Linked DNA regions of Homo sapiens. The protein of the gene in region 2 interacts with the protein of the main gene of each other region in a pairwise test. Each region holds a gene or a part of one and is shown on either strand. Other genes may lie near its edges.

What was found.
Region 1: the proteins of SYT15 (region 2) and CLEC2D interact in binary tests that used the Homo sapiens proteins (3 or more experiments, as listed by UniProt).

The regions. Positions count from the first base shown.
Region 1 is NC_000012.12:9,693,698-9,700,065, reverse strand, and holds the end of CLEC2D (C-type lectin domain family 2 member D), read right to left. Parts: intron 5,307-6,368; coding exon 5,192-5,306; 3' UTR 513-5,191; downstream 1-512. UniProt on the Homo sapiens protein: Receptor for KLRB1 that protects target cells against natural killer cell-mediated lysis. Inhibits osteoclast formation. Inhibits bone resorption. Modulates the release of interferon-gamma. Binds high molecular weight sulfated glycosaminoglycans.
Region 2 is NC_000010.11:46,582,106-46,589,132, reverse strand, and holds part of SYT15 (synaptotagmin-15), read right to left. Parts: coding exon 6,942-7,027; exon of another isoform or gene 5,995-6,941; intron 5,402-5,994; coding exon 5,231-5,401; intron 4,639-5,230; coding exon 4,518-4,638; intron 3,536-4,517; coding exon 3,356-3,535; intron 1,629-3,355; coding exon 1,486-1,628; 3' UTR 1-1,485. UniProt on the Homo sapiens protein: May be involved in the trafficking and exocytosis of secretory vesicles in non-neuronal tissues.

The DNA.
Region 1 (6,368 bases), on a different chromosome or scaffold from region 2:
TCTGAGTCGAAAGCCTTAGAACCAGGAAATGTCTTCCTGACCAATACATGAAGTATTATTAAAATATGCCTAAATAAAACAAAGCATAATTCTCAGTGTAAGGCCAAAGGTCTGGGAAACTGGGGAACTCCAATGTCTGAGAGTAGAAAGAAATGGATGCCCTAGCTTTAGAAGAGAATAAATTTACCCTACCTGACTTTTTGCTCTGTTTGGGTAAGACCTGCACGGATTGGATGATGCCTGCCAACATTGGTGAAGGTAGATCATCTTTACACAGCTTAGTGATTCCAACATCAATCTCTTTCAGAAAAGCCCTCATAGACACATCCAGAGATAATGCTTTCCCTGCTGAGTATACCTTATCTCAGTCAAGTTGACATATAAAATTAGCCATCACACTTCACTTGACAGTTTTAAAGTGTTTTCAAAATGACTATTACTTAAAACAGAAAGCCAATCATCTTTTACATAATTGAGACCCACCCTGAAGAATAAGAGATAGCTGTAATATATTTACAGTTCACTGCCTTTCAAAGTGTTTATTCAGAATTATACTAGAAGTAATTTCATGAAAATAATATTGTGCAACCTTTTCATTCTATTTCAATGAAAAGCAGGCATGAACATTACTCAAGCTTGAAATTTTACTGAAAAGTAAACATTTCAATTAAGCTTAAGGAAAAAAGAAATTTCCTGAGATTTCCAGTGTATACAGAAGTGTCTTTCCATTAAGAATAATTAAAAGTTAAAAAATATGCTGATAACTTGCCACAATTGACAGAATGCAGATTAATAGGATAAATGGCAAACAAATCTATAAAAATGCATGCAGAGAATCAGAGTGATCACCCCACCAAGCAATGGGGTATAGATGGTGATATACCCTTGTCCTTAGGGGAGAGGGAGATGGGGAAGTGTGGGTGATTTTGGGGGAAGAGTAAATAATTTGGGGAGAACTTAATGGGGTGAAGATCACATAAATGGCCTGGGACAAAGTCTACTGGGCTTGCAGAGAAGACAATGGTTTGTGAGAAAAATCTATCCAGGTGGGTTAAGAGACTTCATTCTTTTTCCTACAATATGACTTCAGTTAATGAAAACCCATGGAAGGCACCAGAATTAACTGTTTTCTTATTTGGTGAGTCTGAACTTAAAGCAGATAAAGGAACTTCAGAGAACTTCCTCCTGTGCTCTGGGAAAACAGAGGATTAAGAAACAGAGGTTGAGGAGGAGGTCAGAGAGACCTCGAGTCTTCTTTAGTTCCACCTGTCAAATCACTATATGTTAGGGTATCCGTTTCTGAGCCCCAACAATAGTTTGGAAATATATTCTCCCAATCTGTAAGTTGTCTCTTTACTCCATTAATTATTTCCTTTGCTGTGCAGAAACATTTTTTATTTTATGCAATTTCATTTGTTTATTTTCACTGTGGTTGCATCTACTTTTGAGGTCAAATCCAAAAATTATTGCCCAGACCAACGTTGTGAAGCTTTCTCCCTATATTTTCTTTTAGTAGTTTTACAGTTTAAGTCTTTAATCGATTTTCAGTTGGTTTTTATATATGGTAGGAGGTAAGGGTCCAATTTTATTCTTCTGCATGTGGATATACAATTTTCCCACCACCATTCATTGAAGACTATTTTTTCCCCATTGTGTATTCAACATTTAGGGACTGGGGCTGGGGAATAGAGAGATGTTCCCCACATGTCACAGGGTAGTAGGTTTCAGTTAAGAGGAATAAGCTTTTGAGATCTATTGCACAGCATAGTGACTATAGTTAATAATAGTGTATTGGATCTTTCAAAATTGTCAAGAGAATAAATTTCAAATGTTCTCACCACAGAAAATGATAAGTATGTGAGATGATGAAATGTTAGTTTGATTTAATCATTCCATAGTGTACACATATATCAGAACATCACATTGTATTCCATAATTATACAGTTGTCAGCTAAAAATTTAAAAAATAAAAATATCCTTTAAAAATGCAAATAGCAACTGCAGATAGAAATTTATCATGTATCTCCCAATGTGCTTTTTTATTGTATATATTTGATGTGTATAATGTGATGTTTTTATGTACATACACTTAATCTAATTAACATAAGCTTCATCTCACATACTTACATTTCTTTTTGTCTGTGTGGTAAGAATATCTAAAATCTGTCATCAAGTTTTCAGTACACAGTGCAATACTATTATAGTCCTCATACTGTATGTTAGATATCTAGACATACTCACCCTTTGTAACTGCAACTCTGTATCTTTTGACCTGTGTCTCTGTATTTTCCTCATCTCTGGTAACCACCATTCTACTCTATTTCTATGTATTTGGGTTTTTTTTTTAAGTTTCACTATAAGTGAGATCATGCAACATTTTTTTTCTGTGTCTGGCTTATTTCACTTAGTATATATAATAAACCCTATAGGTTTATTTACATTGTTTCAAATAACAGTGCTGAGACCAGCTCAGTCGGGTAGATCCTAACCCAGCAGCGCCAGAGGAACTAAAGACACACACACAGAAATATAGAGGTGTGAAGTGGGAAATCAGGGGTCTCACAGCCTTCAGAGCTGAGAGCCCAGAACAGAGATTTACCCATGTATTTATTAACAGCAAGCCAGTCATTAGCATTGTTTCTATAGATATTAAATTAACTAAAAGTATCCCTTATGGGAAATGAAGGGATGGGCCGAATTAAAGGAATAGATTGGGCTAGTTAACTGCAGCAGGAACATGTCCTTAAGGCACAGATCGCTCATGCTATTGTTTGTAGCTTAAGAACGCCTTTAAGTGGTTTTCCACCCTGGGCAGGCCAGGTGTTCCTTGCCCTCATTCCCATAAACCCACAACCTTCCAGCGTGGGTGTTATGGCCATCACTAACATGTCACAGTGCTGCAGAGATTTTGTTTATGGCCAGTTTTGGGGTGAGTTTATGGCCAGATTTTGGGGGGCTTGTTCCCAACATAACAGGATTTCTTTTTACAAGGCTGAATAATATTCTATTTTTTATATATATATATATATGTATGTATGTATATAATGTGTGTGTTTTATATATATGACAATTTCTTTATCCATTCATCTGTTAATGGTCACTTCAGTTAGTTCCGTATCTTGGCTATTATGAATAAAGATGTGTTATAATAAACAGGAAAGCAGATATCTTTATGAGGTGGTGATTTCATTTCCTTTGGGTGTATATCTGGAAAAGGGATTGCTGGCTCATATGGTAGTTCTCTTTTTAATTTCTTTAGGAACCTCCATGACGTTTTCTATAATGGCTGCACCAAACTGTGTTCCCACCAACTGTGTACAAGGGTTCCGTCTTCTCCACACTCTCACCAATGCTTGTTATTTCTTGTCTTTTTGATATAGCCATCTGATATGGTTTGGTTGTGTCTCCACCCAAATTTCACCTTGAATTGTAATAATCTCCACATGCAAAGGGCAGGGCCAGGTGGAGACAATTGCTTTATGGGGGCAGTTTTCCCCATACCTTTTTTTTTTTTTTTACTTTATTAAAATACTGAGTTTTATTTCACGTGTATACTTTTGTCTCCCCACCATTTCCATGTCTGACCACTGCTACTACTATGTCCTATCATAGCATCCCATACATACTTAAAACCAAGCAAAGGGTGGAGTTCCATCTTTAAAAACTAAACAGGCATTTTGGACAACACATTCTTGGCAATAGAACCTGGACAACATTTATCAAACATGGTAGGGAAAGTTCTCACTCTGCACTATAAAAAGGACAGCCAGATATCAACTGTTACAGAAATGAAATAAGATGGAAAATTTTTAACAAATTGTTTAAACTATTTTCTTAAAGAGACTTCCTCCACTGCCAGAGATCTTGAATAGCCTCTTGGTCAGTCATCCAGAAGAAATTCTTCACATAATTGATGAACTTGGTTTCCACTTTGGGAAGAGAACCACGTTTTTCTATACTTGCTTGCATTTTTGCTTTAATGTCTTCTACAGAACTAGATCCTTTTGGTGTTTTAGGAGATTTTTCCTGTTTTTTGAAGGATTCTTGTCCTTTTGATCTTGGTGTTGATGATGGTTTTGAGTCTTTTCCATTCTGATTTGACTTTTGTGCATTTTTGGCTGGAGTATCTCGTATAGATTTCTTCACTGGCGCTTTTTCTTCAGCTTCCTCGTCATCATCATCATCATCATCTTCATCATCATCATCATCAGCAGCAGCAGCAAGTTTTACTTTTTTCTGCCCACCTCCAGGGGCAGACTGCTTTCCAGATATACTTAAGAGTTTCACATCCTCCTCTTCTTCATCTTCTGACTCTGCACCTTCCTTCACAGCTACTAAGTGCTGTCCACTAATATGCACTGGCCCTGAACCACACTTCAACCTTAAGTCCACTGGTGGTGTTATTTCAAAGCCCCCAAGAGAAACCGTTGGCTGTACAGACATTTTCAAAGTTGCCAGTGTTACTTTAATTGGACTGCCTTCGTCATTCATGGCCTCTGCTTCAACAATGTGCAGTTCATCCTTTGCACCAGCCCCTGAGCTGACCGTTCTTAAAGATAACTGGTCTCATTTTCATCATTATCCACCTTAAAGTGATCATCTTTGTCGGCCTTTAGTTCACAACTGAAAAGATAGTTCTGGGGCCTCAGGGGGCTCATGTCCATGTCCATCGAATCTTCCATCGGGTGGCGACACACACTTAGGTAGGAGACAAGGCAGACGAAGATAAATGAATGCTGCTCCAGAGAACAGCCGCGCAGGACGGAATCACACCAGGGAGCCCCATACTGTTCTTGTCTCAAGATATCTGATGGTTGTATAAATAGGAGTTCCTGTGCACAAGTCCCCCTGCCTGCCACCACATAAGACATGACTTTGCTTCCCATTTGCCTTCTGTCATGATTGCAAGACCTCCCCAGCCATGTGGAACTATGAGTCAATTAAATCTCTTTTATTTATAAATTACTCAGTCTCGGGTATGTCATTAGCAGTGGGAGAACAGGTAATATTAGCACCATGAAAACAGGTAATATTTTACTATGATTTTGATTTGTATTTTCCCAGTTATTAGTGATATTGAGCATATTTTCATATACCTGTTGGTATAAGAAATAAATTCTTTGCTCATTTTAAAATGGAGTTATCAGTTCCAATATGCTTCTAAAGATTAGTTGGGGCTTTGCTGTAACATCTAGACATGTATATCTGATTTGGAACAAATCCACTTCCTCTCTGTGTAGTGCCTGGCACTACTGGCACCTTTGTCATTCAAATAGGCACACTCTCCTGCTCCCAGGATAGGAAACCTGCAAGAGAAGAAGCAGAATCAGTTGGCCACTGAACATTTCTTCAACAGCAGAGAGAATGAAGATGAGAAAATGAGAAAACTAACATTAATTCAGCCTCTAAAAATAATGCTGTTTTTCCTTGTGTAGTGGTGACTAATTAGTCAGTGGGCTTTGCTTAGCAGGAGATGTTATAAATCAACTATAGGAATACTGCAAAGTCCTGAATCAAACCTATTTCATGTCTGTAAGCATAATATTCTTTCAAGTACATCCAAAGCCTTAGCTGGCTGATGGGAGAAGTCTGACACGTTTTCTTTACACAGTTTCCCAATATTTTGCTTCCTTAAATAACTGAAGACTCAGCAGCTATTTCTAAAAACCATGCTTGATTTTATTCCTCCTACTTCCCTGGTGGTTTTAGTACTGAAACTGCAGTGCTATTTAGCTGAGTTTAGATGGCTTGGCACAGATATTTTAGGTCAGCATTTGGATTATAAATTTTTCCTCTTTGCTCATTGGAATCACTATCATCTATGATATAATTTGCTAATTGTTGAAACTTGTTAGACCTTAATCATATAATATTTTACATTTCTTTAAGTGATGAGCAGTTTCCAAAAACTGGTTAGTTAATAATATATTTGATCCTTAAAATATTTTGAGAGGCCAGGCATGGTGGCTCACACCTGTAATTCCAACATTTTGGGAGGCCGAGGTGGGAGGATTGCTTGAGCTCAGGAGTTCAAGATCAGCCCAGGCAACATAGTGAGACCCCATCGCTGAAAAAAAAAAAAAAAAAAAAAAAAAAGCCAAGCAAGGTGGCACACACCTGTAGTCCCAGCTACTCAGGAGGCTGAGATGGGAGGCTCACTTGAGCCAGGGAAGTCAAGGCTGCAGTGAGCCACGATGGTACTACTGCACTCCAGCCTGGGTAACAGAGTAAGACCCTGTCTCTCAAAAATACAAACAAACAAAAAACCATTTTAAGAATTAGGTAGAGAAAATTTACTACTTCCGTATTGTAAAATAAGAAATAAAAGTTAATTCTAGATATTTATGAAGCAGTCACAATGTGCAAGG
Region 2 (7,027 bases):
AAACACTGCGAGGCGACACTTGTGTTTGTAGATTGACAGAAATTGGAGGTGGAGTTAAAGAGGTAGAAACTCAGTATAACATTCATTGCCTCTTTTGCTAAAGTTGTTTCACTGCATAAGAAAAAGATACTGGTCGGGCTGGGTGCGGTGACTCATGCCTGTAATCCCAGCACTTTGGGAGGCTGAGGCAGGTGGATCACCTGAGGCCAGGAATTTGAGACCAGCCTAGCCAACATGGTAAAATTCCGTCTCTACTAAAAATAAAAAAAATTAGCCAGGCATGGTGGCGGGCGCCAGTAATCCCAGCTACTTGGGAGGCTGAGGCAGGAGAATCGCTTGAACCTGGGAGGTGGAGGGTGCAGTGAGCCGAGATCACGCCATTGCACTCCAGCCTGGGTGACAAGAGGGAAACTCCGTCTCAAAAAATTAAAATAAAAAAAAAAAAAAGAAAAAGAAGGAAAAAAGAGAAAGAGATAGTGGTTCCATGTGCTGTTCTAGTTACACAAAACAACGTGTTGACGTGCAGGCTGCACGATGCCAGGTGCAAATACACACTACCTGTTACAGTAACTGTGACAAGCACAAGGGCTGCTCACTAGCTTGAGTGCAACTTCTGGGGAGTTGATGGCAGTGATCTGTGGGTACTTCCTTCTTAACAAATTTTACATCAATACTGCAACACAGCAATCTCAGCCCTGTGGGCTATACCATAGCCACATGCTTTCACCATTTCCTGCTCAAAGGGAGAGCCCAGGAACTGAATGCTCTTAATCAGGGAGAGCACAGAAACAGCAGCAGAACAGCTGGAGAACCAGGGCTGTGTGGTTTTGGACTGTGGGGAGGGTGGGCCATGGGCAGACTTGACACAATGTGGGAGGGCATTTGACACAGCCCCGTGGAGGACCTAATGCTCGGGGAGGCCTTCACCCAGCACAGTGAGCCATGCCGACACTTGGTGCCTGAGTGCGCTGGTCACAGCGCCCTCCCTGTGATTTTCCCCATAGCAGTGTGTTTTCTCTGCCAGGCAGAAGGCAGAGAAACCCTGGCTGAAAAAGCAGTGAGGGTCATCGACTGCATGAACACATCATCAGCTTTCCCAGATGGAGGCACCCAAGTTTACCCTGCAGGTCCATTCAGCAGGTAGAGCTGGGTCATCACTAAACAGGATCTTTCTTCTGAGCATCTGAGATTCTGGTCCAAATCAGGGCTGTGAGGACCAGGAGCCGGGATTCCGAGCCCAGGCAGCCCCGCAGATAAGGAGGAGGGAGTGTGTCGGAAGGCTGTATGGCCAGAGCCGCTGACCGGGCCAGGGCTTCTTTGTCCCCTCTTCTCTCCTGCATATCAGCACTCACGTCCTCCTGGCTCGGGCTGGCTGGCAGCTCGGGGAGCTGTTGGATGAAACGTCCATGCGTGTGGCTGTGGCTGTCACATGCAACTGCGAGGATGGTCGGCTCCCAAAGCGGAACCGCGGTGCTGGGCGAAGGGTCAGGGCTCCGTGGTGCGGCAGAGCGCATGCCAGCGCTTCACCAGCTCCTTGGGCTTGCTGAGCATCTCGTCCCAGTGCTCCAGCTCTCTGCCGCGGGTGTACATGTAGGGGCCCACCACCACTCGGCCCAGCTGCTGGCTCTCTGCAGGGGAGGGAGAGCACCGGTGTGCTCCTGAGCACAGAAGCCCCGTCCCCAGTGACCTCCTTTCCTCCCTCCTCCTCCCCAGGAGGAAGTAGCAACTCCCCTCCTCTCTGAGTGGGAGCTGACAGGCCCCAAAGGGGCCCTGCCTTTGCTCTGCAGCTGGAAGGGCTGCTTCTCCCCCTGGGAGATTGGGAGGAAGGAGAGCCCTGAAAGACTCTCTCCTTGAGGGCCACCAGCTCTGCCCCACACCCTTCTGTGGGGCCGTATTAAGTCTACCTTATGCCAAAGAGCTGAGGGAGGAAAGGGCCCCTCTAGAAAGAAGGCCTCGGCCATCCGAGAGTACATTCAGCAGTAACATTCACTGGCCACCGTGGAGAAGGGTCTTAAGTCCAGGCCATGTGGCCAGCCACGGCCTGATGGCTCTGTTTCCCCAGAGTGGCAGTGGGTGCTGGGGTGTGGGGCAGTGTGGGAGCTGGCTGACAGAACTCGCCCAGAACCCCAAAGTCTCATCTGGAGGGCACGAGGAAGGTCAGAGCACCAGGTCCCTGGGCTGGTGGCAGGCCTGGCCCCTCCCACTCTCTCGGGTGATTTGCTCCAGGAGAGGGCAGCAGAGGCCATTGCTTAACCTCTTTCTTTTTCTTTTCTTTTCTTTTTTTTTTTTTTGACAGAGTCTCGCTCTGTGGACAGGCTGGAGTGCAGTTGCAAGATCTTGGCTCACTGCAACCTCTGCCTCCCGGGTTCAAGTGATTCTTCTGCTTCAGCCTCCCGAGTAGTTGGGCCTACAGGCGTGCACCACCACGCCTAGCTAACTTTTGTATTTTTAGTACAGACGGAATTTTACTATGTTGGCCAGGATGGTCTTGATCTCTTGACGTCGTGATCCACCCCTCTCGGTCTCCCAAAGTGCTAGGATTATAGGCGTGAGCCACCGCACCCAGCCAACCTCTTTTTTTTTTTTTGAGACGAAGTCTCGCTCTGTTGCCCAGGCTGGAATGCAGTGGTGCGATCTCGGCTCACTGCAAGCTCCGCCTCCCAGGCTCATGCCATTCTCCTGCCTCAGCCTCCCAAGTAGCTGGGACTACAGGCACCAGCCACCACACCCAGCTAATTTTTTGTATTTTTAGTAGAGACGTGGTTTCACTGTGTTAGCCAGGACGGTCTCGATCTCCTGACCTCGTGATCTGCCTACCTCGGCCTTCCAAAGTGCTGGGATTACAGGTGTGAGCCACCGTGCCCGGCCCTTTTTTTTTTTTTTTTTTTTTTGACAGATTCAGCAGCCTCGCCTCCTGGGTTCAAGAGATCCTCCCACCTCAACCTCCCAAGTAGCTGGGATTACAGGGGTGTGCCACCACGCCCAGCTAATTATTGTATTTTTAGTAGAGATGAGCGTTTCACCATGTTGGCCAGGCTGGTCTTGAACTCCTGAGCTCAAGTGATCCACCCACCTTGGCCTCCCAAGGTGCTGGGATTACAGATGTGAGCCAGCATGCCCGGCTGCTTAACCTGTTTCTAGGGTGCCACAGACAGAGCTCAACTGGACTAAAGCTGGGCCTGAAACCCAGGCCTTGGGCAATATTTCAGCCTTTCTGAGCACTAGTTTCCTTAACCAGGGAGGGAGCTCGTACAGCTCCTTCTGAGGTCAGGACAGGAGGCACTCACTCTGCCTGAACACTCGGCAGCCCCTCGTGGTCCCCATCCCAGCAGCCCAGGGTAGGGTGTGGCCTTACTGTCCCCTTCCATGTTCTGCACCACAGTCAGGCTGAGGCTAGCGGTATCCAGCTCGGTGGCATCGGCCTTGAAGCTGAAGGTCTCATTGTACACAGGGTTGATGGAGCCCAGCACAGCTGAAGTCTTCTTGCACTTGACAAACTTGTTGTGGTTCATCAGAGACACTTTGACAAACACACCTAGGGAACGGTGAGCACTAGTGGGCTGGCAGAGGCAGGTGGGAGCAGAGCCCCTGCCTGTGGGAGGTCCGGCTAGGAGGGCACGTGCCCAAGCTAGGTGCCAGGGCCCCACCCCTCACACAGTGCTGCGGCCCCGCCGGCGTGACCAGAGGAAGCCGGCTGAGGAGTGCACTGCCCTGCGGCCCAGGCGGGGCTCCGCTCCCTTCCTTTTCCTTCCTCTTTGCATCAGGAAAGTACCCACGGCTCCTGCAGGCCCTGGTTTACCAGAGCCTAGCACCGCAAGCCTGTCCCTCCCTGTTGGGGGGCTGCTCACTGGGCCCCCAGGCCCCCTGGGGCCCCTTAAACACCTTGTACAGAGGGCTAAGATTTGGTGGGTGAGGGTCAGAGTCACAGTGGAAGGTCTGGATCCTGCCTGGCTTACGGTGACCCCAGATGTGAACACAAACAGGTGGCTGACCACCACCTCACTGGGATGGGTGGGATGTGTGGGGTGAGCCCAAATGGGGTGGGACATGTGGGGTGAACCAAGGCCTCCCCTTCTGCAGCTCCTGTATTCTGGGAGGCCAAGCATCAGTGCCCATTGAGTCGGGGGCTCTTCCCCTGTGGGGAGGGAGGTGCGGGCCTCACCCTGGAGGAACTGGACCCATGCCGCTGATGGAAAGGTGGAGGTGGAGGCAGGCAGGACAGTTCAAAGAGCCAAGACGCTGCCTCGGGAAACAGGAGGGGCAGGGCCTGGTATTGCGGCTGGGTTAGAACCCTCCGTAGGGGAGGCCAAGGAGATGCAGCTTTGGGTTCAACACAGGAAGAGGCTTCCTGCACCAGAACTGTCGACCGAGGGACAGCACGTCTTGTGAGGTAGTGAGCGCTCCATGATAGGTGTATGCAAGCAGAAACTGGATGGTCAGGGATGAGGTTGGACTGTAGCCCCAGGCTGTAAGCTCGGTGGGTGGGACCTTCCCCAGGAGGAAAGGGAGGAACTCACTGACAATGCCTCTGTCCTCCTGGAGCCGGAGGCCCTTGGCACGCAGCACAACCACCGTCAGGCGGCTCAGGTAGTCGTTGTAGCTGAGGCAGAACTGGAGGTCGCCAAACTCCGAGGGGGGCTGGGGAGGCCAAGATGGAAGCACCCCACCCTGTTACTCTGGCAAGTGCTGAAGGGGTCACAGAACCCCCAGAGAGCCTCCCGCTTCCTCCTAGCGGTCCATGCGACACACCCGCATGGTCCCCTTTGAGTTCCACTGCCATTTTAAGGATGGGGCAACTGTGGTCTGGAGAGTTTAAGGGGCTTGTGCAGTCCTGTGGACCAGAGCTAAGGAGTCACACCCAGGTCTGAGCCAGCTGGGGCCTTCCTGGGGGTGGTGGGCTGGAGGAAACATTTCCCTGGGCTGGACCATTTGTGGTGTCATCTCTCACAGCTGTCTAACCTAGATAAGAATCCAAATGTGGATATTTCAGGTTGCTCCAGGGGGTCTGATGGCCAGTGTGACAACAGGACCTCAAGCAGGCCCTCCCTGCCCAGGGGCAGGTCCGTTCCCACCTGTCCCATGCTGCTTGGGGCCTGGGCCCTCCTCCCTGAGTCACTGTTGTAGGGTGGTGTGCAGGATGCTGAGGGCTGATGCCGCCAGCAGGTGCTGGGCCCTGTGCACACCTGCCAGCTGATGCTCAGTGGCATAGGCATGGTGACCTTGACCATACCTCCAGGCTCTCGGCCTCCAGGTCTCTCCAGATGACACGCCGGCAGTCCCCCACTAGGGTCTCATTCTTCAAGGGGAAGAGCACCTGGCCCAGGAGCTGGTGCTTCCTCTGCCTGTCCACGTGGTAGACGGAGAACTTCAGCACCCTCTGGGTGATGGTCTTGCTGGACACCTGGGGGGGACAAGGACACCAGCCAGAGTCAGGCGTGGGGGTAGGGGATGGGATGGTGTGACTTGTTATTCTGGACATGGGTGCTTTTGGGAACGGGTGTCTCAACCAGGGACCCACATCCCCCAAACCTAGGCATTTTCAGGGGACCCTTCTCAGCAGCAGAGCCGTGTACCCCTGGAAAGTGGGGGTAGGTGCCAGGACCTTGGTACACAGAGTGTGGTCCGAGGACCTGTAGCGTCTACCACCACTTGGAGCCCTGTTAGAAATGCAGGATCTTGGGCCCCAGCCCAGATTCATGAATTGGAATCTGCCGTTTAACCGGAGCACCAAGTGACATGGCTGCACGGTGAGTGTGGCTCCGCCACCACCCTGCACTGTAGCAAAGGCCCAGGAGCCCAGGGCACCGGCCTGTCTCTGCTGTCAGAGCTGGGCATGCCAGCTCTCTCCTCCCTGAGATTTGGCCTCCTCGCCTGTGAAATGGGGATTATGGGTCTTCCTCTCTGGTTGTAAAACCCCAATCACAGTGTCTGACCTCCAGCAGATGGCCCATTAATATTGATTTTCTTTTCTTTCCCCTTCTCCCTTTTCCACAGAGGGATTGGATCAAGCTGGGGCGAGATAGAGTGGGGAAGTGATGAGCTAAGAAAAATTAGCCTGCAAGCATGACGTGTCGCACGTCAGCAAGGCTGCAGCCTTGGATTCTGATGTCTTGAGAAGAGCGATTCACCTGTGAATTCTCACAGCCCTGGCCTCAGAAAGACGGCCCGGGACCAGGCCCGATGGCACCCCTCTTCCCAGCTCTCAGCCAGGGCGGAAGGCACAAGTGATGGCCCTGGCCTCCGCAGTCACACTCCTCCTGAAAGCTGACTGGCTGAACCTCACCTCTTGGCTAGCTTGCCACCCAGCTCTTGAGAACATGTTTGTCCAAGGCCTCTTGGCAGGTCTCGATGACTCCTTCCCCTAAGGGCCCCCAGTCACCTGCTAAGGCTCCCAGGCCCCTGTGAAACTGGCTCGGTGCCCCAATAGACTCTCCACCTCCAGACCCTAAGCCGGCCAGCCCAGAGTGCAGCAAGGCACCACACCTACCCTGTGAGGGCACTCGGGCCCCGCGCTGGCCTCTGACAGCACAGGAAGCTTCTGCATTCACGCTGAGGCCTGTCTTTTGCCTTCCTTAGATAAACTTGCCAGAAACCCCATAGTGCTTCAGGCCTTTGGGATAATTCCCCTGAGCCCCATAGGCCAGGGCCTGGCATTCAGTAGTTGCTCTAAAATTGTGTTTTCACCCACTCTCTTCCAGGTAGTCAGGACAGGGAAGCCCAGGCTTCTGGTCACCACTCACCAAATCTCTCCCCTGCCCCTCTATCAGGGATCAGCTCCTATAGGCCTTAACCTAGCAGACTAGGTAAAGCAGAGCTGGTGGCATCAAGGGTCCCGGGGGCTGCAGAGCCCTGGCTGGTACAGGAGGCTGGGCTCTCCTGTAGGTCTGCACCTTCCCAGCAACGCGGAGGGCACCAGACCCTGCCTGCTCCAGAGGCTGTACCTGAAAGATGAAGTGCTCGTCAAACTGCGGGTTGGAGGTTTTGCGTTTGGTCTTGGATTGGAGGAAGCGCCGCTCATCGGGCAGCA